2 separate regions of the Homo sapiens genome follow, and region 2 is linked to region 1. The links come from fine-mapping of genetic effects on gene expression. A gene starts in region 1. The other region holds a variant in brackets. All regions are shown on one strand. Distances are from middle to middle. Region 1 holds the start of TAL1 (TAL bHLH transcription factor 1, erythroid differentiation factor). Region 2 has its middle 59 kb from the start of FOXD2.

What was found. PIP is the estimated chance that this variant, and not a neighbour inherited with it, causes the effect.
Region 2: its variant is the best candidate, but not a certain one, in a credible set for the expression of TAL1 in whole blood (INTERVAL, PIP 0.86).

The regions. Positions count from the first base shown.
Region 1 is chr1:47,226,299-47,237,575 of GRCh38, reverse strand. It overlaps TAL1 (TAL bHLH transcription factor 1, erythroid differentiation factor), which reads left to right and starts at 5,351. Exons shown (of 5, transcript NM_001290403.2): 1 at 5,351-5,409; 2 at 8,225-8,380. RefSeq lists enhancers at 5,182-6,155, 6,156-7,129, 7,322-8,283, 8,284-9,245.
Region 2 is chr1:47,490,911-47,502,187 of GRCh38, reverse strand. It overlaps the pseudogene RPL21P24. Among named protein-coding and RNA genes, the nearest start is that of FOXD2, 59 kb to the right of the region's middle. The variant T/C (reference allele first, on the strand shown) is at 5,742.

The DNA.
Region 1 (11,277 bases):
GAACTGGTGGCTATGCACATGTTCTGTCCTTTTCTAACAGCTCTGGGAATAAAATCATTGATGGCAGAGCTATTGGGGTTCTCTGCTCATGAGGACAGTTAAGTTTAGACACTATCTCTTCTGTAAGTCTGGAAAGCAACTTCGGTCTTCTGTATGCTTTGGTCTTCCGCATGGGTTAGGGAAAGGGAAATGGCTTTGAAACATTAAAAAGCACAGGCCGGGGGCGGTGGCTCATGCCTGTAATCCCAGCACTTTGGGAGGCTGAGATCGGCAGATCACCTGAGGTCAGGAGTTTGAGACCAGCCTGGCTAACATGGTGAAACTTCATCTCTATTAAAAATACAAAAAAGGCCGGGTGTGGTGGCTCATGCCTGTAATCCCAGCACTTTGGAAGGCCAAGGCGGGCGGATCACCTGAAGTCAGGAGTTCGAGACCAGCCTGGCCAACATGGTAAAACCCTGTCTCTACTAAAAATATAAGTAATTAGCTGGGCGTGGTGATGCATGCCTGTAGTCCCAGCTTCTTGGGAGGCTGAGGCACAAGAATTGCTTGAACTCATGAGGCAGAGGTTGTGGTGAGCCAAAATTGTGCCATTGCACTCCAGCCTGGGTGACAGAGGGAGACTCTGTCTCAAAAAAAAAAAAAAAAAAAAATTAGCTGGGTGTGGCGGCATGCACCTGTAGTCCCAGCTACTCAGGAGGCTGAGGCAGGAGAATTGCTTGAACCCAGGAGGCAGAGGTTGCAGTGAGCCGAGATCACACCATTGTATTCCAGCCTGGGAGACAGAGTGAAACTCTGTCTCAAAAAAAAAAAAAAGCACGGTGTTTTCTTAACACAATTTTACTTTGGCCTTTGCTACAGATGGGGGTTGTAAACTAGAGAAGTGGTTCTCAAATTTTGTGTGTGTGTCAGAAATCATCAGGAAGGCTTGTGAAAACAAATTGCTGGGCCTCACCCTCAGAGTAGTAGTAGTAGGCCTGGGGTGAGGCCTGAGAATTTGCTTTTCTAACAGGTTCCTCGGTGATGCTGACCATCCACTTTGAGAGCCACTGAGAGTGAAGTTCCTTCCATCCCTGAGAATTCTGACAGCAGCGTTGGGGTTTGGAAGCACAGACGTGACTCCCAAGCTCGGAATTCTTGAGGCCTGCTTACTGATGGGGTAGGGGTTCTTCCAGGGCAAGAGACAGAGGCAAAAATGGAGAGAATAGTCCTTTGAAAGTGGAAGAGGGAAATAATGACATTTCCTCAAATTGAAATTTTCCTCATTAAAAATAATCCTTATATAAACAGTATTATGTATGGAAAATGAGCACCTCTCTTCTGCAAATAAGGAAAGTGAACCTCAGAGATTAAGTAATTTGCCTGGTATCATACAGCTGGCAACTAGGGGAGCAGGGATAGGAGCTCAGGTCTGCCTGACCATTGTGCTTGCTTTGCTGCTTTCGAAGCACTGTGGCCTGAAGCCAGACTGCCCTAGGTGTGAATTTTGCCTCCACCACTTACCTGCTGGGTGTTCTCTGCAAGTTGCTCAACCTCTCTGTGCTACCTACAAAATGGAGTAGTCCCTACTTCATTAGGTTCTTGCAAGGATTAACTGAATTAATACTTACAAAGTGCCTAGGACAGTACTTGTCACACAGTAACTGCAGTGTAGATTTGTTAAAAATAAACTCGGCTGCTCATCAGAGTGCATGCATGGCATCTTTCCGGAGAAGAAGCTCGGGGGAGAAGCTCAGAGATAGTCCAGTACTCAGAGAGGGCAGGCAGAAACACTTGAAAAATGGTAAGAGGCTTGGCTTTGGGGTTTAGGGAGAACCCAACCTTTGGTGGTGGGGAACAACGGCCTCAGGGCCAGAGCCTAGCTAGCCTGTTCTTGTCCCCTGCTCTTGCTGCCCCAGTTCCAGACTCCAGACTTACCAGTCTGGGTCTCAACCTCCCCTCCCTCCTCGCCACCCCCACCCCAGGCGCTCCGGGTTTCCTGCCCGACTGGGGCCTCCGTTTGGGGCGGGTGGAGGAGGGGTGGCATTTCCTGGCTGGCCCCGGCCTGTCACTCTCTCGTGGACGCTCGGACAACTCGCTGACCGACAGGCACCAGATGCTATTTCAGGCAGCGCCCCGCTTAGCGCACAGCTTCCGTTTTTCCACTGACCATCGGAAACAGGGGAGGGGGCAGATGTAGACGTCATGAGACCCCAGCCCCTGGCAGGGCTTTGGTGGATGAGGTCGGGAGTGGCTGCCTGACTGTCAGAATCTGGAGCTTGGCAGAGAACAAATGTGTGGAATTGGAGGGTTGGTGAACGTCACCTCCTCGCTCCACAGACAGAGGCCTGGGCACACCCTCTGCCACAGGGCTGAGAAACGCCTTTCCACCTGTCCATATTCCTTCACCACAGGAAAGGACACTTTCCTTGGAGGTGCTGGCTGGGGACATTTAATGCCCTGTAAAATAATCCAACAGTCTGCAGGTGTCTCAAAGGCATCTAAACTTAAGGAGTTCAAAACCAAATATATAAGCCCTCCCCATGTCCCCTCAGCCTCCAGGTTCCCCATCTCCAGGAATAACCACCACTAGCTCTGCAGGACAGCCAGAAACCCAGGGGTTTTCCTGGATTCCTTCCTCTCCCTCATCCCCCCAAACCCAATTCTTTTTTTGTTTGTTTGTTTGAGACAGAGTCTCGCTCTGTCGCCAGGCTGGAGTGCAGTGTCGCGATCTCGGCTCACTGCAACCTCTGCCTCCTGGGTTCAGGTGATTCTCCTGCCTCAGCCTCCTGAGTAGCTGAGACTACAGGCGTGCGCTGCCACACCCAGCTAATTTTTGTATTTTTAGTGGAGACAGGGTTTCATCATGTTGGCCAGGATGGTCTCGATCTCTTGACCTCGTGACCCGCCTGCCTGGGCCTCCCAAAGTGCTGGGATTAGAGGCATGAGCCACCATGCCTGGCCCAAATCCAATTATTATAAACCCAGTTTTATACCCCAAATACATGTCATCTTCACTTGCCTCTTGTCATCTCTTCTGCCAGCACAGTGGTCCAAGCTCTAATCCGCTTCCCCTAACCACTGCATTGGCTCCACAACTGGCCTCCCAGAGTCCTTCCCCCTCCACACTTCATCCAAAGAACTTTCTAGAAATGCAAATCTTATTCTATACAAGGTACCACCCCCACCTTCAAACCAAACAAACAAAAAAATGTCAAAAAATCTTTTAACTTGTCCACAAGCATGCTCCAGCCATACTGGACACTTTTCTATTCTTTTCACGAACCTACCACCCTTCTGTTCTAGCCCTTGGTCCAGCTGTTTCCTCAGCCCACCTGGAAGGTTCTGGATACTGATGCTTCTCCCCACCCCCCTTCTTCGCACCCCCAAATTTCACTCTTAGATCTCAGTCCAGGCCTCATTTTCTCAGAGAAGCAGTCCCCACCTGGGCTCTCCCATATGGGAATGGCTAGCCTGTTTTTACAGTGGCTCAGAGACATGAAATCACTTCTCTAAGGGTCCCACAGCCCAGGAATGGCAGAGTTGTGTTTCAGACTCAGAATTATATGACTCTCATTTTCTAATAAGTGATGGAGCCAAGCAAAGGCCTTATGGTAGGGGGGAACTAGACTTTTTCTTAGGATGTGGGATTCTGTGAGAGTTATCTGTATCCCCATGACAGCCTGACTTCCTTCAGAGAGCACAGGAGGAACAGAGGGGACAGGCGGCACTGAATTAACTGTATCTTCTCAGAGGGTCAACCTGATGACCAAGGAGAAGCCAGATCCCAGACTGGGGCCATGCTCTCTGCTCAGTCTTTGACTGGGACTCAGTTTGTTACCAGAGTAGGGGTTTTCCCCCAGTTCTCAGGCTCCAAAAAAAGCTCAAAAGCAGAGACACTAGAAGGACAAATCAGCCTGGCATGGAAAGTAGAGTTGTGGACTGGGAATTGGACACCAAAGTTTGGGTCCTGGCTTTTCCTTTGGGTTACTGTAAGTTTTGGCTAAGTCACATCTCTCTGTGTCTTAATTTCTTTCTCTATGATGATAACCAGAACTCCCATGCAAGTGCATATGATGTTTTCCTGGGCTGTGGACTGAGTGACGTTCCATACATTATTATCCTCACCACCACCTTTTAAAGGTCATATAAGTTAGTTCTCATAACTTTGTGACGTCGACATTATCTCCCCATTTTACAAATGAGAAAACTGAGGTTCAGAGATCAGTGACTAAAATTCGAACATGTGTTCTTTCCACTCCACCATGAAAGAATGAACCCAGAGACCCTCCGTGGGCTGAGCGCATCATCCAGCTGGCACTGAACTCAGATTTCTACCCCACAGTAAAGACCCTGGTCTCTGCAATGAGTTGAGCCCAGGTCCCTTTCCCTGGCTAGGTTTTGGCTGCCCCTCTTCATCAGCTGAGCCGCAGAGAAGACTCCGTGTCAAATTTCCTTCCAAGGCAGACTCCACCAAGCACTAGCTATGTATCATTCGAAAAGTTACTTTGACTTTCTGTGCCTCAGTTTTCTCTTCTGTAAATTAAGGATCCAGCTTCTCAGGACTGTTTGTGAAGAGTAGATTAGTATTTGCAGAATGCCTAGAATAGTGTTACAGTCGCTAGATTAAACTTTTTTTTTTTTTTTAAATACCATGTGGGGAGCAGTGTTCCTGGGCTCTGGGCTCAGCCTGAAACCTAGCAGAATAGGCATTTTATGTCCCTATTGACAGGGGTTCTGCCAGGCCGCCGTAGAGCCCATGGATTTGAGTTACCGGCTCTATTTTAGAAGGGGGTGAAGAGGTAGGGAAGGGCTGGGGAGCTTTCTGGGATAGGGAGACTGCCCATTGAAATCTGGGTGTCTGGGACACTGGAGGAAGAATAAGAAAGAAGCCCTGGGAGGTGACGATTTTGGTATCATGGTGGTCTTCAGAGGTAGGGACAGAGTGCTGGGGTGAGAGTCGCTGAAGAAAGGTGTCTGAAAGGTTAAGGGACTGAGGTTGTGGGAAGCTGGGGTTCCTGAGAGGCCTTGGGATTAGAGATGGGGGCTGGATCTGCTGGGTCCTAGACAGCGCGTCCAACGCTCCCCGCAGCGCGTTCCGGAGCCGGTCCTAGCGCCGCTCAACCAGTCCCCACTCCCTCCGGTGAAATTGCCAAATTAAAATGAATCATTTGGCCCATAATGGCCGAGGCGCTTATCGGGGGCGGGCGGACCCGCGGCAGTGCCTTATCTCTGCGGCGCACACGGCCCCGGCGCGCCTCGGCCCATGCTAACGAGGCCTGGAACGTGAGTGGGATTACAGCGCGTCGGTGGAGGGGCCGGGCGGGCGCGGGGCGGGCGGGGGAGCGGGGGCCGCGGGAGGGGCCGGGCCGCCGCCGCTCAGGACCGGGCCTCAAAATGGCCACACGCGTACCCCCGTAGCGGAAAAACGTGAGCATTCTGGCCTTTTTCTAGGGGAAAAGCAACCCGCGGCCTCCCACCGAATTCTTCATCAATTTCCTCCTCTTTTTCCCCACGTCCGCAAAAGAGGTCTTCGCTCCCTTTCCCTCGGTTCCTTTCGATGGCCGGGGGGGGCGGTGGGGGGGCATTTTCCACGGACGCCCCCGCCCCGGCTGCCGCCGCCCCTCCCGCCTCGGAGACTCTCTTCCTTCCTTCCCCCTTTTCCTTACGCAATATACAGAAATGCGCGAGGCTGTGGTTGGTTTTCATTTCTTCTTCGTGGTTGTGTGCATGCGGTGGGATTGTGAGAGTGCGTTCATGAGAACTGTGGGCGGCGTTGGCTGCTTCTAAGTGTGGTCTTCTTGGCGACAGGCTCTGTGTCCGAGTGTGGTGTGCCTGCGCGGTTGGGGTGTGTAGATGTGGACCCTTCGAGGCCCTTCTGCGTTTTCTTCGTTGCGTACGATTGTGCTCCGTTGGTGTTCTCAGCAGGGATCTGATTCTGTGTGTGGGGGTGTGTGGCCCCTGCGACTGTGTTTGGGTGGTGTCGTCGTTATGTCGGGCGTGTGTGATCCCGACTGTGCTGGATTGTGTGTCCGTGAGCCGCTGCGTTTGACTGATTTCGTTGTGTCCTGTTGGGCAGTGTGCGGGGCTGACCAAGTCGGCTTCTGGGGCAGTGCTAGGTGGTGTTTGTTTGCTGCCCTTCTGTGGGGCTGGACCCTGTGTGGTCCTGTCCGCACTGAGTTGTATGCCTGTGTGCCTGTGTCCTTTAGAGGTGCGTTTGCAAATCGCTGGGGGCGGGAGTGGGGGGAGGGCGAGCGAGAGATCGAGGCGCTGGTGGGGGCGGCGGCATGGGGGCGGGGAGCGGGATTTCACATTTTATTCCAAATTATGATGTATTCGGGAGCCAGTTGTTGGCTTGGGTGGGCGGACAGCGCCCGGTCGGCGGCTGCTCTGCCCGGAGGCCCGCCTGTGCCTAGGTGTTTGAGGGGTTCGTTGGTGAGTGGGAGGCTCCTCCAGGCTTGAAGCTGAGCAGCGCTCGCCGAGGCCGGCGCCTTCGAGCCGGTAGCTGCGGGCTTCGGTTCCCGCTGCACTCCGGCTTCATCCATTTCTGGTCAGTTTCGTGGGTGCGGCCGCCGGGCTCCAAGGGAGAGGCCCCGAAAGGACAATGGGCACATTCACCAGGCCTCGAGCCTCGGGTGGGGACATTCGGGATCACCTCCTGGGAAGATTTTCCCGCCCCCTCTTCGGGTGAGCGACGTTGCCGCTTGGGTCTGATACCCGTCGCATCCGAGACCGAGGCCGAATCCGGGCTCTGGGAGGGACCGGGTTAGTGGGGCCCTAGCTCGGGTTGAAAGAATTTTGTTTTGTCAATTATTGTAATTGCTAATGCCATCACCATCACAATCGTCATCATTAACATCTATTTTAATTAAAATAATCATCCCAGAGCGCAGCAGTTTGTCCCTTTTGGCTCCTTTGGCGGGAGAACAAAGCAGCGGGTTTTTTTCCGCTACAGCCGTTTTCTAAGTTGCTGGGTTTGAGGTAGGAAGAGAAAATGGAGAGAGGCACGGACACAGAGACTTGGTCATAAGGCAAACATTAACCCCCAGCGAACACGCAACATTAACCCCCCGCGAACACGCCGGGAATGGATGGATTCCCCTCTTCTTTCCTCCCCTCCCCTCTTTTGGATTAGAAGAGGAGAAAGAAAATCTTCCGCATTGTATTGCAATCCAGGGAAGAATTATTCCTATATGTCCACCAAAGCCGCGGCAAATAGAAGGAGGCCTTCGCAGTTAATCCAAGACTTCGATGTGTGATCATAAGCCTGACGATTTAGGCAAAACAAATTAAACAAAATCCACTAGGAAAAAATAAAAGCAAGCTCAATCCTGCTACATCCTTGAAAGTAGTGTCGGGTTTGTTTTTACCTCCTTTCCTTTTACCTTGTTTATTGCTGTAACAAATCATTAGAATTCTCCCTTACTCTGTCTAAACCCCGAAAAATCGAAAATCATTTCGTAGGGGTGGTGGAGGGGAAGGTGGGGGACTTTTCCCCTTTGTTTCTTTCTTTCCCCCTTTGTTGGTCTTTATTTCCTTTTCTTTTTCTGTCTCTCTCTTCCTCTCTCTTTCTTCTTTCTCTTAATCAGTAGGGAGACGAGAAAGGACCTGAACAGATCAGATATCTCTCTCCAAGCCCCCTTCCCAACTCCATTTCTGTAGGAAAGTACAGCCCCTGGAATTGGGTTCTGGTTTCGCTTTGGGCTGGAGGTGGGTGGATGGGGGTCAGAGAGAGAATGAGGTGGGGGGGACTTCAAGGTTCTGTCCCACCGACCAGAGTCTGAAGACTATTCGCCTTTCCCAACACGGACCTCCGCCCATCCAGGCCCGGGACTATCCCTTCGCGGTGTAGCGGCAGCCGGAGACCTGGCTGAGGAGGCAACCGCGTAGACACCTCCCTGCTTAGAAAACAAACACTGAACCAGACCGATCCCAGTTGGAGGGTTCGAAAATGTTCCAGACAGCCTGTCGGGAGGGGTTGTTGTTGCTGTTGGACTAAATAGCTATTCCTGATTGGTCATGTATAGGGTTTTTTAAGGCGGGTGGGGGGAGGAGGGGGTAGAGGAAAGGCTCCAAACACCTGCAGGTTGGGGGCGGAAAGCTGTTTGCGATTCCCTGGACTGGTTGGTCGGGGACAGGAGGTAATTCCCAGCCATTGACCCCCATTTCTCTCTCTCCCTCCCTCTTGCCCTGCCTCTTTCTCTCCACCCCTATCTTTCCTGGAAACTCGCTTTGGGCGCGGCAGATCGCCCAGGACCACACCGCAGCGTAACTGCAGGCCTCTCAGCGAAAAAGGGGGAAAGCAAAGACCCGGGTGTGCATCCTCTTCCTCGGCTTCCGCCCCTTTCCGGCGGAGTGGAGATCCTATTCAGAGGGGCCGGTCTCTCTAAATATGCCCCAGGTGAGTTTTCAGGGGAATGGTGCCGGTGGAAACGGTGTCTAGGAAGGCCTTGTGTTCCGGCCTGGGGTGAGGAAGGCTCAGGACAGAGGAGAGCCCATTCTCAGATTGGGGGTGGGGGGAGGGGAGGACCAGCCAGAGCTTGGAATCGGGATCTGACTGCTGTAGCTGCCTCTGTGGCATTCAGCGGCTTTTTCCCTTTTCCACCCAGGGTAAAACCAGCTAGTTGGACTTAGTCGTCCAGGCCTTTCCCATTGGTCCCGGTTCTGTGGACGTTTCCCAAGGCCGGTAACTTTGGGGCGGCTGTATCCGGGTGGTACAGACTGTGCCTGGAGCTCCCGCAGGAGGAAGGCGGCAGCCTTCCTGGCTAGTGCAGTCCCAGCTCGAGTGGGCCCTGATCCCAGGCCTGAGGCCTAGGGTGGGGAGGCAGGAACACCCCTCTTCTCCGGTAGAGGCGAGGATGGTGGTGCTGTTCCCTGGTGGGTTTGGTACTTGTGCAGGCTTGGGGCTTCTCCAGGGTGTTGTGCTGGTGTGGGCCCAGAAGAGAGACCAGAGGCTGGGTCTAAGGGCCTGAGGCTGTTTTCATCTAAGAAATTCTCTGTATGGGGGATTGGGTCTGCTTGAGACCTGTCCCCAGGAAGAATCTCCTGGGGTCTTCTGTCTTGTTCTGGCACAGGTGGAAATATTCTGGCTGTCTGGCAACTGCAGATGAGGATTTCCTGTTGGGGGCTATAAGCAGGGTCTCCGTAGTACAAAGAGAGAGGAGCTGTAGTCGTCAAATACTCTAGAACGATTCAGTCTAAAATCTCCCTCCTCCTTCATTCTCCCCAAATAAAAACAAACAAAATCTCTCGGGCGTTCCTTTCTGTAATCCAAATCAAGTGATGCAGCTTAGTCGCCAACAACCATCAGTGTTTGTGAGTGGCTTCTTTGGGGCATGGACCTCTGGCTGGTAATCCTAAACCGGCAGGATTTTCCTAAAATGTGGGGAGGAGCCGGGAGAGGTCCTCCACAGATCCTGGGATCCAATCATATATTTCTTACAAGGAACCTTGGCGATGGGATATTTATAGGTGTCTGGAGAGGACATTTGTGGCCAGGGTCAATTCATCTGGAATATGTACTCCCATTGCCTCTCAGGAATCCACCGCTAGAGCAGGAGCCTAAGAATTAATTGGAGGGTAAAAATGTGTCATAACAGAGCTTGAGCTCAGTCTGCAACTGCAGTGCACACTGTCACTCGGTTAGAAGCTGGGGCTTAAGCATGGATCACTGGGCTCACACCGGTGTGTCAGGACGGAGAGCAGTGAGGTAGGGAACCAATACCTTGAAGCTTGTATGTTTCCCAGGGGTTGGTATATTTCTGGCACATTTCGCTGCTGCTGGGAGCAAGAGGACCTGGCTGATATACTTCTGGTGCATTTCCAGTGGCCTTGGTGTCTTGGTGGTTGCATTCTATGGATAGAGACCTATTGTCTCCACCAAAATCATAAACTCACTTCCAATGAAGTGTCAGGGACCTACTGCCTTTACAGCTTGTATACACCAGGACTTAGGGAATTTTGTGGTTTCTGTGCCAGACCTGGGGGGCTGGCATTCCCAAAGAAGGTGTACAGCAGTCTGAATCTTGACTCTCTGTCATCCTGGGTGTCTAGTGGCAATTGAGCCAAGCTCCAGAGGAGGCTGCAGATGATCCATTCTCCCTTCTGGGGTGGGAGGGATGGTTCCTAGGATGACTCCTGTCCAGAGCATTGCAGTGGCAGTATGGGAGCTCAATGGCTGCTATGTATGATTTAGATGGACTCTGCATGGGGGTAAATTGTTTTTTTGTATTTGTTTTCTTCTTTTAAATACCCAATTATATAATTCAGAGAGCAGAAAGCTTATTTTAAACAACTTATGTGGTGTTGATCATATATGTACAACTCACAACTCACAAACTCTGGCCCTTGAGTCTCCTGATTTTTCTGTTTTGGTTCTTGCTGGTGCCCAGCTCTATCTGGATGAAGCCAGGTGATGGAAGAGCCCCAGCACACCTGTGGGAAGTAGAGTGGCTGTGGTCATCTCGGAGTATGCTTGTGGGGTCACAAGGTGGTTTCACTGCTCTGGGAATACAGGAGGGTTGAGCAAAGTGAGATTATTGCTCTGGTCTGGCTCTCTCACAGATAGGCTGTGAGTGACTTGACATTCGGCCAGGCAGTTTTCTCACTGGCCCATTCTCCTTGTTAATAATGTTTACTTGAACGTTTGCACAGCACTTTCAAATGCATAAAGGAGGTATTCCTCCCATTTCCCAAAGAACACCAAGGCAGGAGATGGCGGTGAGGGGGGCTGGAAGAGTTCAAGGGCCTCATGACATCCTGTCCTGCTCTTGGATGGGAGTCCAGACCCCACTGGCCTCAGGGAACCCTTCAAATGCCCAGCTCCATTCTACCTCAGCCAGGCCTCTCTTTGAGACTCGACCTCACTTCAGAGTCCAGCTGAGCAGAACGAGGTGGACTGTGCAGGGAGGTTGGGCCAGCACCATCTTCTTCCCTTGGCGACCTCTCATCTCTGTCTGAGTGGGAGTAAAGATCCGCTGGGCGGGCAGAGGACTCACAGTGGATTTGCTCAGTGTAGACAGACACTCCCTCACTCCCCAGCGGGGGCGAATGTGTGTGTGTGTGTGTGTGGAGGGAGCTGGTTCCTCGGGATTATTCTCTGCCAGCTCTGGCGGAGTGGATCCCAGTCCCCGTAGCCTCCACTTTCTAATTCCCTACTTCCATCCGCACCGGGTTTCTGGGTGTGTGCCTGTAGGTGGGCTGGGAATATTGCTGAGAGGCCAAGGGAGGTTCCTAAAGCAACGAACCCCTGCCTGACAGATTCCCCGCTAAAACCAAAGAGCACGATCCGGAATTTGT
Region 2 (11,277 bases), 260 kb before region 1:
TAGACTCGAAGTGGCAGGAAAGGCAGATGGTAAGGTTAGTTGGAATCAAATCATGCCATATTCCATCTATGCTGCTACTGATATTAGAGGAAGGGACCCAGAGGAGGGTTTGAGCTGAAATAGGACCACAGCCAGAGATGAAGTACAGGGAGCAGGATCTAGCTTCCCAAAGATTAGAGGAAAGACAACTGAGATGATCTGGAAGAAGGACCTTTAGGACCTAGCCAGGGAATTTGGGCTCAGATCCTTTCTCTGAGCAGAATAAATAATAAATAGCAGTCGGTAAATGATAGCTGTCATTATGATCAGTGGTCAGTAAGTGCTGTGGTTTGTTACCCACTGACCTCATCCCCAGGCAGTCAGCATGGGGCCAGAGCCATTGCTTAACTGCTGGGAGCTCAGATATGATGGAACAATGACAGTTTACAGATTCGCCATCGAGCTGTGCCACCCTTCCCTTGTTCTGGTGTCCAATATCAATGAGAAATAAACCGCCAGGGAGAATACTATGAATACAAGGGCATTTTAGGGACCAGTGAAAATTATCTAAGGCAGAGGAGCTACTTTATAAGAGTCCCTACAAAATCCACTTACGTGAATCTCTCCTGTCACTCTCACAGCAACTCTAGGTGGTGGGTATTTAAGCTCCATTCTAGAGATGTGAAAACCAAGGCTCAGAGAGAAGTCATTTGTCCAAGGTTCTTAACTAATAATAGAGAGACGTCAGTTTTAAAATCCAATAAGTGGTGCATGCCTGTAGTCCCAGCTACTCGGGAGGCTGGCATGGGAGGATGGCCTGAGCCCAGGAGGTGGAGGTTGCAGCAGCTGAGATCGCACCACTGCACTCCAGCCAGGGTGACAGAGCCAGGCCTTGTCTCAAAAATAAATAAATAAATAAATAAATAAATACATAAATAAATAAATAATAAAATCCAAGAGCTCTTTTCCCTACATAAGGCTGTGTCTATGGATCAAAGCAACGAAACCCAAGTTCAGTGTGTACTTCAGCTACGCAAGCACCTTCACCCCTGATGGGCCCATCAGCTTACTGGATGCCAAACCTTATAACACCTGGCCATGAGGCCTTGGAACTCATCTTGCCCCCAGGTCAAGCACATGCTTCCTTCCATTGGCTGGGAAGAGACTGGAGATTTCAGAAACCTTGGATCCAGTCTCAAATTCTCCAGTTCCTGGCTACATGGTTTCACCTTTCTAAGCTTGTGCTTCCTCATCCAAAAAATGAGGATAATAATGCCTTCTTCCCATGTATGTTGTGAAGGTCCAATGTGATAATGTATAGGAAAGAGCTTTATAAACTGAAAAGCATGGTGCAGACTTGTTTCATTGCCCAAATCACAGACAAACAACACTATCTTATAAACTTAAAAGCTTTTGCTAGTTCATGTCTTCCAGATTTACGGGAAGGCCTTCTGGTCTAACAGCCAAGTCTAGTTCACAGATGATTTGCAAGGCAGGAGTGATTGATGACACTTCATTTATTCATTTGTCACACATTTGCTAGTCTCTTCTGTGCCAGGCTCTGTATTGAGCACTGGTGAATAAAGACATAGTCCTTGTCCTTGGGCAGGTGGTCATTGGGGGAGACAGAAACAGACAATAATGATCCAGTTGTAGTCAATGATAAAGTATAAGCAAGTACAAAAAGAGTATAAACAAGTGAGGTGAACTTCTCTGAGAATTAAAGGAAACTGCCAGGTAAGGTTTCTGAGAAGGGATTATTCGCACAAGGTGTCAAATAATTTTTCTATTTCTTCATTCGACAAATATTTATGGGGCTCTTCTAAAGTACTGAGATACATCACCAAACAAAATAAATAGTCCCTGCCTTCAAGGAGCTTAGTGGAGAAGACAGATAATAAAAAGAAGAACAAATAAATTATTACATGCCATAATCTCATATCATATATATTATATATGTATAATGTGATATATAAATACATTATAGTGATATAAGGTGTTATAAAAAAGCAGAGTAAAGTTGTTATACAAATATAATAAATATTAGGTATTTATTATAATAAATAAGTATTAGGTGCTATAAAAAATAAGGCAGAATAAAAAATAAGACAGAGTAAAGTAAGTAAGGCTGGTAAGGGTAAAGGGGCTATTCTATATGAACTGATAAGGGAAAGACTCTAAGAAACTGATGGTTGACCACAGACATGAATGGAGTAAGGACATGAGCATTGAATTATAATGAAAAAAAAACAACAAAAATTTGTGGAATGTAGCTAAAGTTATTTGTATAGGAAATTTTTAAACTTTAAATGTTTATATTAAAAGATAAGAATAATTTAAAATCCATGATCTAAATTGCCATTTTAAGAATATAAAAAAAGAGGAGTAAAGAAGGGGAAACAAATGTTGACGATGAGTAAAACTTACTGAAATAGAAAATAAATAATAAAGAAAACCAATTAAACCAAAACTGATTCTCTGATGAGATTAATAAAATTGATATGCCTCTAGCTAGACTGATCAAGGAAAAAAAAAGAGAAGACACAAATTGCCAACATCAGAAATAAAAGAAAAGACATCACTACAGACATTAAAGTGATAGAATATTACGTACAATTTTATGCTAGTTAATTCAACAACTTAGGTGCAATGAACACATTTTTTGAAAGACACAAATTGCCAATACTGACACAAGAAGAAATAGAAAATCTGAATTAGCCCTATGTCTTTAAAGAAATTGCATTCATAATTTTTTTAATTCCCACAAATAAAACTCCAGGTGTTTGCAATAGTGAATTCTTTCAAACATTTAATGAATAAATAATACAAAACTTACATAAACTCTTTCAGAAAATATAGGCGGAGGGGGCACTTTCCAATTTATTATATGAGATTAGTGTAATTCTAATAACCAAAACCAGGCCTAATTATTATAAGAAAGAAAATTATACACCAATACCCCTCAAAAACATAAACACAAAAATCTTTTTAAAAGTACTGTCAAATCAAATTTGGTTACATATATTTATATATGATATATAATAGATCAATACATAGATAGATAGATAGATAGATAGATAGATAGATAGATAGATAGATAGACAGACAGATAGAATGACCAAGTGGGGCTTATCTCAAGAATACAGGTGGCTTGTACAATTTTCCAAATTAATACAATGAAGGAGAAAAATCAAATGATCATCTCAATATGGGCTGAAAAATAATTTGATGAAGTTCAATACCCCTCTACAATCCAAATTCTCAGCAATCTAAAAATAGAAGAGGACTTTCTCAATCTGATTTTTTAATGTGAAAAACATACAACTAACATGACAATAACGAAATATTAAGCTCTTTTTTCCCTAAGATCAGGAACTTAAGACTGCTTGATTTCAAGAGTTACCATAAAGCTACAATAATCAAAAAGTTGGAACCGGCATAAGCGTAGACAAACAGGTCAACAGAACAGAGTCCAAAATAGATCCACACATATCAACTGATTTTTGACCAAGTCAATTTAATAGGGAAAAGAAAGTCCCTTCAAAAAATAGTACTAGAACAACTAGATAACTATATGGGGGAAACTGAACCTCAACTACTACCTCAACCCCATACCAAAAATTAATTATTCAAAATTGATTCTAGACCTAAACTTAAAAGTGAAAACTATAAAACTTCTAGAAGAAAACATGGGGGAATATATTTGTGATTTTGGACTAGGCAAAAATTTCTTAGGACACAAGAAAATCACTAGCCATAAGATAAGAAATTATTAAATCAGACCTGATCAAATTTTAAACTTTTATTCATCAAAAAATATGATTAAGCCTCTCGGCCTTAACCTCCATCTTCCAGTAATTCACCAAAACAACATAAAGGGAAAGAGGAGAGGCACCTGATACATATTCTCTAGGCCTTTTAGGAAACATGGAGTTGTTCCTTTGAATACACGTGAATCTGTAAGAAAGGCAATATTGTAGACATCAAGGAAATGGGCACTGTTCAAAAAGCAATACCTCACAAATGTTAACCATGGCAAACTGGAAGAGTCTACAGTGTCACTCAGCATTAGTTAGTTAACTTATTGGGCAAGATTCTTGCCAAGAGAATTAATGTGCATATTGAGCACTCTAAGAGCCAAAATAGCTTCCTGAAATGTGTGAAGGAAAATGATCAGGAAAAGAAGGAACCAAAGAGAAAGGTACCTGGGTTTAGCAGAAGCACCAGCCTGCTCCACCCAGGGAAGCACACTTTGTGAGAACCAATGAAAAGGAACCGGAGCTGCTGGAACCTCTTCCCTATGAATGTATGGCATAACAGGTGTTAAAAATAAGAGACCTCTGGACTGTAAAAAAAGAAAAAAAAGATAAAAGAAAATCAATATGGCCACCTTATATTACATATTATATTTAGAATATGTAAGGAATTCATAATAAAATGACAATCCAATAAAAACTGGGCAAACACTTGAATAATCACTTCACAAAAGATATACAAATAGCCAGTGAGTGCATTAAAAAGTACTCAACGTCATTAATCATCTGTAAATTCAAGTTAAAATGACAAAGAGATGTAACTACACACCCACTAGAATAGCTGAAATGATAAAAGGCTGACAACAGCAAATGTTGGCAAGGATGTGAAGCAATCAAAATGCTCATAATGCTCATATAGGCCAGGAACAGTGGCTCATGCCTATAATCTCAACACTCTGGGAGGCTAAGGCAGGAGGATCGCTTGTGCCCAGGAGTTGAAGACTAACCTGGGTAACATGGTGGGACCCCATCTCTCCAAAAACAAACAAACAAACAAAATTTAAACCAGCCAAGCATGGTGATGCACTCCTGTAATTCCAACTACTTGGGAGGCTGAGGTGAGAGGATCACCTAAAGTCAGGAGTTTGAGACTTCAGTGAGCTGTGATTGTGCCACTGCACTACAGCCTGGACAGCAGAGTGAAACTGTCAAAAAAAAAAAAAAAAAAAAAGGAAGGGAAGAAGGAAGGAAGGAAGGAAGGAGGAAAGGAGGGAGGGAGGGAAGGAAGGAAGGAAAAAAATGCTCATATATTGCTGGTGGGAGTGTAAAATGATACAACCTCTTTGGTAATTTTATATAAAGTTAAAAATACATCTACTCAACCCAGCAATTCCACTGCTGAGTATTTACCCAAGAAATAAAGACATATGTCCATTTCTCTTGTATAAGAAATGTTTATAGCAGCCTTATTCATAATAGTCCAAAACTGTGCATAACCCAAATAAATGAATAAACAAAATGTGGTATATCCATTAAATGCGATACAATTCAGCTGTCACAAAGAACTACCCACTAATCTACCAATAACATGGATGAAGCTCAAAAACATTAAGCAAAAGAAGCCAGACACAAGAGTTTGACAAGCAAAAACTAATCTCAGCCGGGCGTGGTGGCTCATCCATGTAATCTCAGCACTTTGGGAGGCCAAGGTGGGCAGATCACCTGAGGTCAGGAGTTTGAGACCAGCCTGGCCAACATAGTGAAACCACGTCCCTACTAAAAATACAGAAATTAGCCGGGGGTGATGGTGGGTGCCTGTAATCCCAGCTACTGGGGAGGCTGAGGCAGGAGAATCGCTTGAACCCCAGAGGTGGGGGTTGCAGTGAGCTGAGATCGCACCACTGCACTCCAGCCTGGCTGACAGAGTGAGACTCCATCTTAAAAAAAAAAAAAAAACTAATCTCTAGTGTTAGAAGTCAGAACAGTGTTTGCATCTGGAGGGTAGAA[T/C]TGATTGGGAAAGGTAATGAGGGCACTTACTGGGTGATGAAAATGTCCTGGCTTGATTGAGGTCATGGTTACATAGGTGTGTACATTTGTCAAAGTTCATCAAACCACACTTAAGATCCCTACATTTCACGGTATGTAAAATATACCTTAATTTAAAAAAAAAAGGAGGGGGTGCCAGGCGCAGTGGCTCACACCTATAATCTCAGCACTTTAGGAGGCTGAGGCAGGAGGGCTGCTTGAGCCCAGGAGTTCGAGACTGCAGTGAACTATAAGTGCACCACTGGACTCCAGCCTGGGGCAACAGAGTGACACCCTGTTTCTAAAACATAAAATAAAATCAGTTTTAAAATTTGTGATGAAATCCACAAAAAGGCAGCAAAGAGGACTAGAGAAAGGTGTGGCCGGAAAAGGCTACAGTGAGGAGGCAGTATTTGCACTGAGGCTTGAAGAGCAGGCAGGATCTGGATGGGAGTGTGGTGAGAATCAGAGATGTCAGATGTGAAAGAACTTAGAGAATTGCTAAATATAATGGATTGCTTAGCTGAATCGCTGATGCCACCACAGAGCAAAAGAAGAAAGACCAAAATAAGCATTTGAGGAGAGAGTTGGGGGTGATCACATGGAGCTCCACATCTCAGGAGATTGGTCAGGGACAGATCCTGGAGACTGGAGCATGTGTACCCTGGAAGCACAGCAATGTGTCAGGGGTAGACTCAGCACCTAGCTCACTGCTGGGCACATAGAAAGTACTAAATAAACGTTTTTGAAACGTGAAATATAAATAAAAGTGTTGCTCACAGGTCTGAGCCTGAGTGATCGCTTAGAGCCCCAGAAAGGACATGAGACTGGCTGTGGTTCTCCCTGCAAAGAAGCTGAGTATAGTCGGGGAGTGCTGAACTTAGACACATTCTATCACGCAGCTCAAGCTGCCCTGGGGGTGCCATATAACTTTATTGTAAGCTCGTGCAACAACACAGGCAAATGGAATAACAATGTAAAGTTGGCTTTAATTAAAATGAAGGGTGTTTGCCTCTCCCTTCTTTTCGTCTTAAGCCAGGCAGCCTGCTGAGCTGCACAGAGCAATCAAAGGAATGTTTCTAATGCAGGAGGCAGCCCCCCAACCCCCAACATTCAAGCGTCCCCTCTCACTCCCCAGCCTCCACCACACTCCCTTCTTATATGATCCACATGGCAAAAGGAAAACAGGAGTGGTGATGCCCCTCTAGGAGGCACCAGGAAAGGAGAGAGTGTTGCCAACCAGTGTGGGAAGGGAAAGGGTTCCAGCTGCAGAAATCTCATCCACGGAGCCATTCCACCCATGCCTCCTGGACTATTGAGTGCTAGCTAGACCTTGTGCCCAGTGTTGGTGCCTATTCTGAAAAGAACTCCCTGTCTGGTGGAAATTCATCAATACAAAAGAGGTATCCACCAAGGAAACCATGAAAAGTCCATGAATCCAGGGGTTCATCTATTTTCCCTGACACCTGAAAAATAAAGTTGATCCTAAGAATTTGCTAACTAGAGAGAAGGACCATATTTGAAGGGCCCAAAAGAGATGGCATGGTGCTAGGCACTTTATATACTTCATACCCTGTATCAGCCTGTGATGTGCAGGTAAAGGTTTAACCAGATAAAGTTGCCATTTGTAGGGAGAGGAGAGCCCCAATTTATAGTGTTTGCCAATTTCCCTAGTGTAAATTCCCCCAGAGAGGCAGATTTCAAGCTACCAATATGATATTAACTAGCTCGTGAAATTTCTGAAAAGTTACCAATGGGCTCGCACTGGTGCAGCACACCACTGGTTCTAGCTGTCTGTGATGCTCTCGGCCAGCTAGAGGAATTCTGAACACTAATATCTCAGCCAAGGGTTTTCATTCAACAAACACTTAAAGAGCATCTTCTCCGTGCTAGGCTTTGTGCCAAGAGGTCTCAAATCCATATTAAATAATAATATAAAAATAGAGTTAGCATCTATTGAGGGTTTGCTATATGCCAGGCTCTCTTCTAAAGGCGTTTCACAAATCCGTGCATTTAATCCTCAAAATCCTGTGACATAGATACTACCTATTAGAAAACTCAGGCTCAGAAAGGATAAGTTACTTACCCATGATCACACAGCTAGTAAAAAGAAATAGCACATAGTTGTGGCCATTCAATGCCCTTCCTTTCTCCATTCTGAGTCCAACATTCTCCAGGTAGAAGCCAGAAAATTCTCATCCCCAGACCTCTTTGTGGCTCAGGATCAGACATATGACCCAGGTGCCATGAATCAGACACACCTGGGTGAAACCTAGATTCAGAAGAAGGAGGCAGCCAGGTGGGGCAAATGATCTTATGACCAGGGCAGTTGCAAAGGCATCCAGTTCTTTGGAACAGCAGTGGTGGAACTTCTGGTATCCAGCCCTAAATGCTATAGGGACTGAGTGACCAGGCAGTGGTGTTTTCACTAAAAATGTCCTCATGGTTTGGTCAGGCCTTTTTCCCAGGACCCTCCAGGGATTTCTGTAAGCTGCCCAACATCCTGTAATAAATCCTTGTTCTGCTTAAACTAGCCATAATGGACTCTGTTGTTTGCAATTAGGAACCCCGATAAGATGGGGGATCCACGGTTCAAACTGAGCCTTGCCTCCAGAACTCAAACTTTGACCCATAATGATACACAGCTTTATTTTCTCCTCTCTGCAACTCCGTAAATGAGGCTCTACTCCTCCCATTTCACAGATGAAGAAACTAAGTCTAAAAGACATCAGACCAACTGCCTGAGATTACATATTAAATTGAGCCACATGAAACTTGATATTCAATCATCTTTGGCCTACTTCATACAGTTCAACCTAATGGAAATGGCAACTTCATTATGGTTGAACCTCATAGAAATAGGAGTTTAGTATAGATTTATGTGACTCCCAAACCCTTGCTTTTCCACTGCCTCTGCTTTCTCACAGTCAGGCCTGTTCATGGAATCTAGTGCATGAGAAGTGCACTCAGGTGGTCTTAGTTGGGGAGGTGAGGCAGGGAGAGGTTCACCTTCCAGTGGAACCTAAAAGACCAAGAGAAGTGGAAACAGCAGATTACCATCTTTACTTGCTGCTTCTTGTGCCCAAGCTCGGAGCTCACCCCTTTTGGGGAGGGCACTGAAAAGAAGGCTTGGTCCCTGCCTGCATGGAGCTTAGGTCAAGGATTCTTGCAGGGGCCATATTGGAGGAGAAATAGCACAGGACCACGAGAAGAATGAGAGACACTTAACCTGTTAGTGTGCAGAGGGAAGGCCTCCTGGAGGAGTAGAGGCCATAGAGTTATCTTGAAGGACTGGTAGGTTGTGGGTGAGTGGAGAGAGGTGGCAGGACATCAGGCAGTAGGAACAGCACGAGCAAAGGCAAGGAGACTGGAATGGGCACAGCTGTGTCAAGGGAAATAAGGAAAGCAGTTTAGGAGAACAATAGGGACCAGATGAAAAGAAAGGCTGAGAAGGTGATTTGCTCATTCACCAGCCCTTACGGGGCACCCACTATGTGTCAGATGCTATGCTAGGGATACAGCTCTGGGCCACACAGACTTAGTCTCTGCCCTCATGGGCCTTATGACCCAGCAGGGAAGCCATGGGTCTAACAAGTAAGGGGCAAAGAACTCATTAATTGCAGTTTGGCTATTTTTTGTCAACATTAAGTTCGGGAGCAGTAGGAGAGCCATGAGAGAGGGTGACACCTGAAAAGAAGTCAAAGAAGGCTCCCCTGAGGAAGTGGCATTTAAACTGAAACCTGAAGAATGATGATAAACTAGGCAATGGAGGAGTATCCCAAGGAGAAGACGCAGCGCATAACAGGGCCCTGAGGTTGGGAAGAGCTTGTCACAGTCGAGGAACTGAAAGAAAGACAGTGGGGTTGGCGTGTGCTGAGTGACACAGGACCAGGGACACAGAGGACACAGAAGACAAGCCAGGAAGGCAGACCCAGGAGCCATGCTGCACGGGGACTGGCAGAGCATGTTAAGGAGTTTGGGTTTTAGCCTAAGAACCAAGAGAAGTGACAAAATCAGCTCTGTACTTTTTTTTAACAGTCACTTGATTTGCTCTGGGAGAGAATGGGCTAGAGGGAACAAAAGTGGAGACCTACTAGGCAACTGTCAGAGTCATTTGAAGGAACAGTGACAGCAGCCGGGGTGGAGTCATGGCAGGGAGGAAGGATGGAGGTGCAGTTGTTTCAGGCGGATTCCAAGTTTACTGACTCAGTGAGCCAGGACAGTGCAAGTGTTACGTGATGTAATTTCCCCTTCCTCAGTTTCCTCATCTGTAAATGGGCGGAGCAGGTCCTTACCCACAAGGCTGTTGAAAGTACTGAAGTGAGTTGACACACAAGGAAGAGTGAAATGGTGAAAGTTAGCTATGTTTGGCTGACTCAGGTGGCTTTGTGGAGAGGATGGGAGTCCCATTTTGGATGCATTCAGTTGGAGAAGATTATGGGTCATCCCAGTGGAGACATCAGGTAAACTGTCAGGTGGACTCAGGAGGGCGGTCTGGAGGAAGTTTGGGGACTGCTGGTGTACAGATGGTATCCAACACCACAGGAAAAGAGGAAATGTCCCAGAGAGAGCATGCAGGGTGAGCTCCCAGATGAGCCATGGGGCTTTGCCCGGCTTTGCATGCCAGGCTAGGGCACTGGAGCTTGCTCCTAGACCCCAGGAAGAATAGTGGGAATGACAGTGGCTTTGGCAGTGCCCCTGGGGACATCGAGCAATTCATCCTGACTCTGACCCCTGGCGGTCTTAGCTGGTGGCCTTTCCCTGATTCCCGGGGGAGTCAGGCCTGAGTCAGCTCCTCTGGGCCCTGAACCTGTCTGAGCCTTCAGACCCACGGCTTAGGCTGCTAAGCCCCAGCTCGTGCTGACAAATCCCTTCTAATGGGGAGATCAACCTTTCAATACTATGCGACTCGAGAGACATGTCCCAGGGCTGCAGACAGCTGGCTGGGCACTGGCCCAGAGAGGCCATGGGAGAGTGGGCATCCCAGCACTGTGGGCTCTCACAGGCCTCTCTGGCTGTCACCACCCACTCCAGCAGCTGCAGGGACTCCCAGTGCCCTGGCTTAGCAAAGCCACATGCTGGGTGTCCTGTGGGAGATTCAGAGAACAGATGAGAAAAGAATCTTGTCCCTGTGTGGCTTTGATGACCAAAATCGCATTAAAAGGAGTGCCGTAGCCCTTGGGAAATATGGTGGCTTCTGTATTTCCCACCTTAGGTTTTTGAACTTGCTCTTTTTTTCTGCCTGGAACATTCTTCCTGCAGATATCTGTAAAGCTTGCTCCATCATCTGCTTCTAGTCTTTATCCAAAAGTCATCTTCCCAAGGAGGCAGTCCCTAAAATTACAAGCACAACCCCTCAGTGCTTCCTACCCCTTCCCAGCTTTATTTTCCTCCATAATGTGTTCATAGTCTGCCATCCTATATTTTACTTTTTATTTTTAGTTGTTCATCTCCCCTAACCCCCAACCCCCAATTAAAGAGAAAGCGCTACAAGGACAGAGATTCTGGCTCTGTTGCT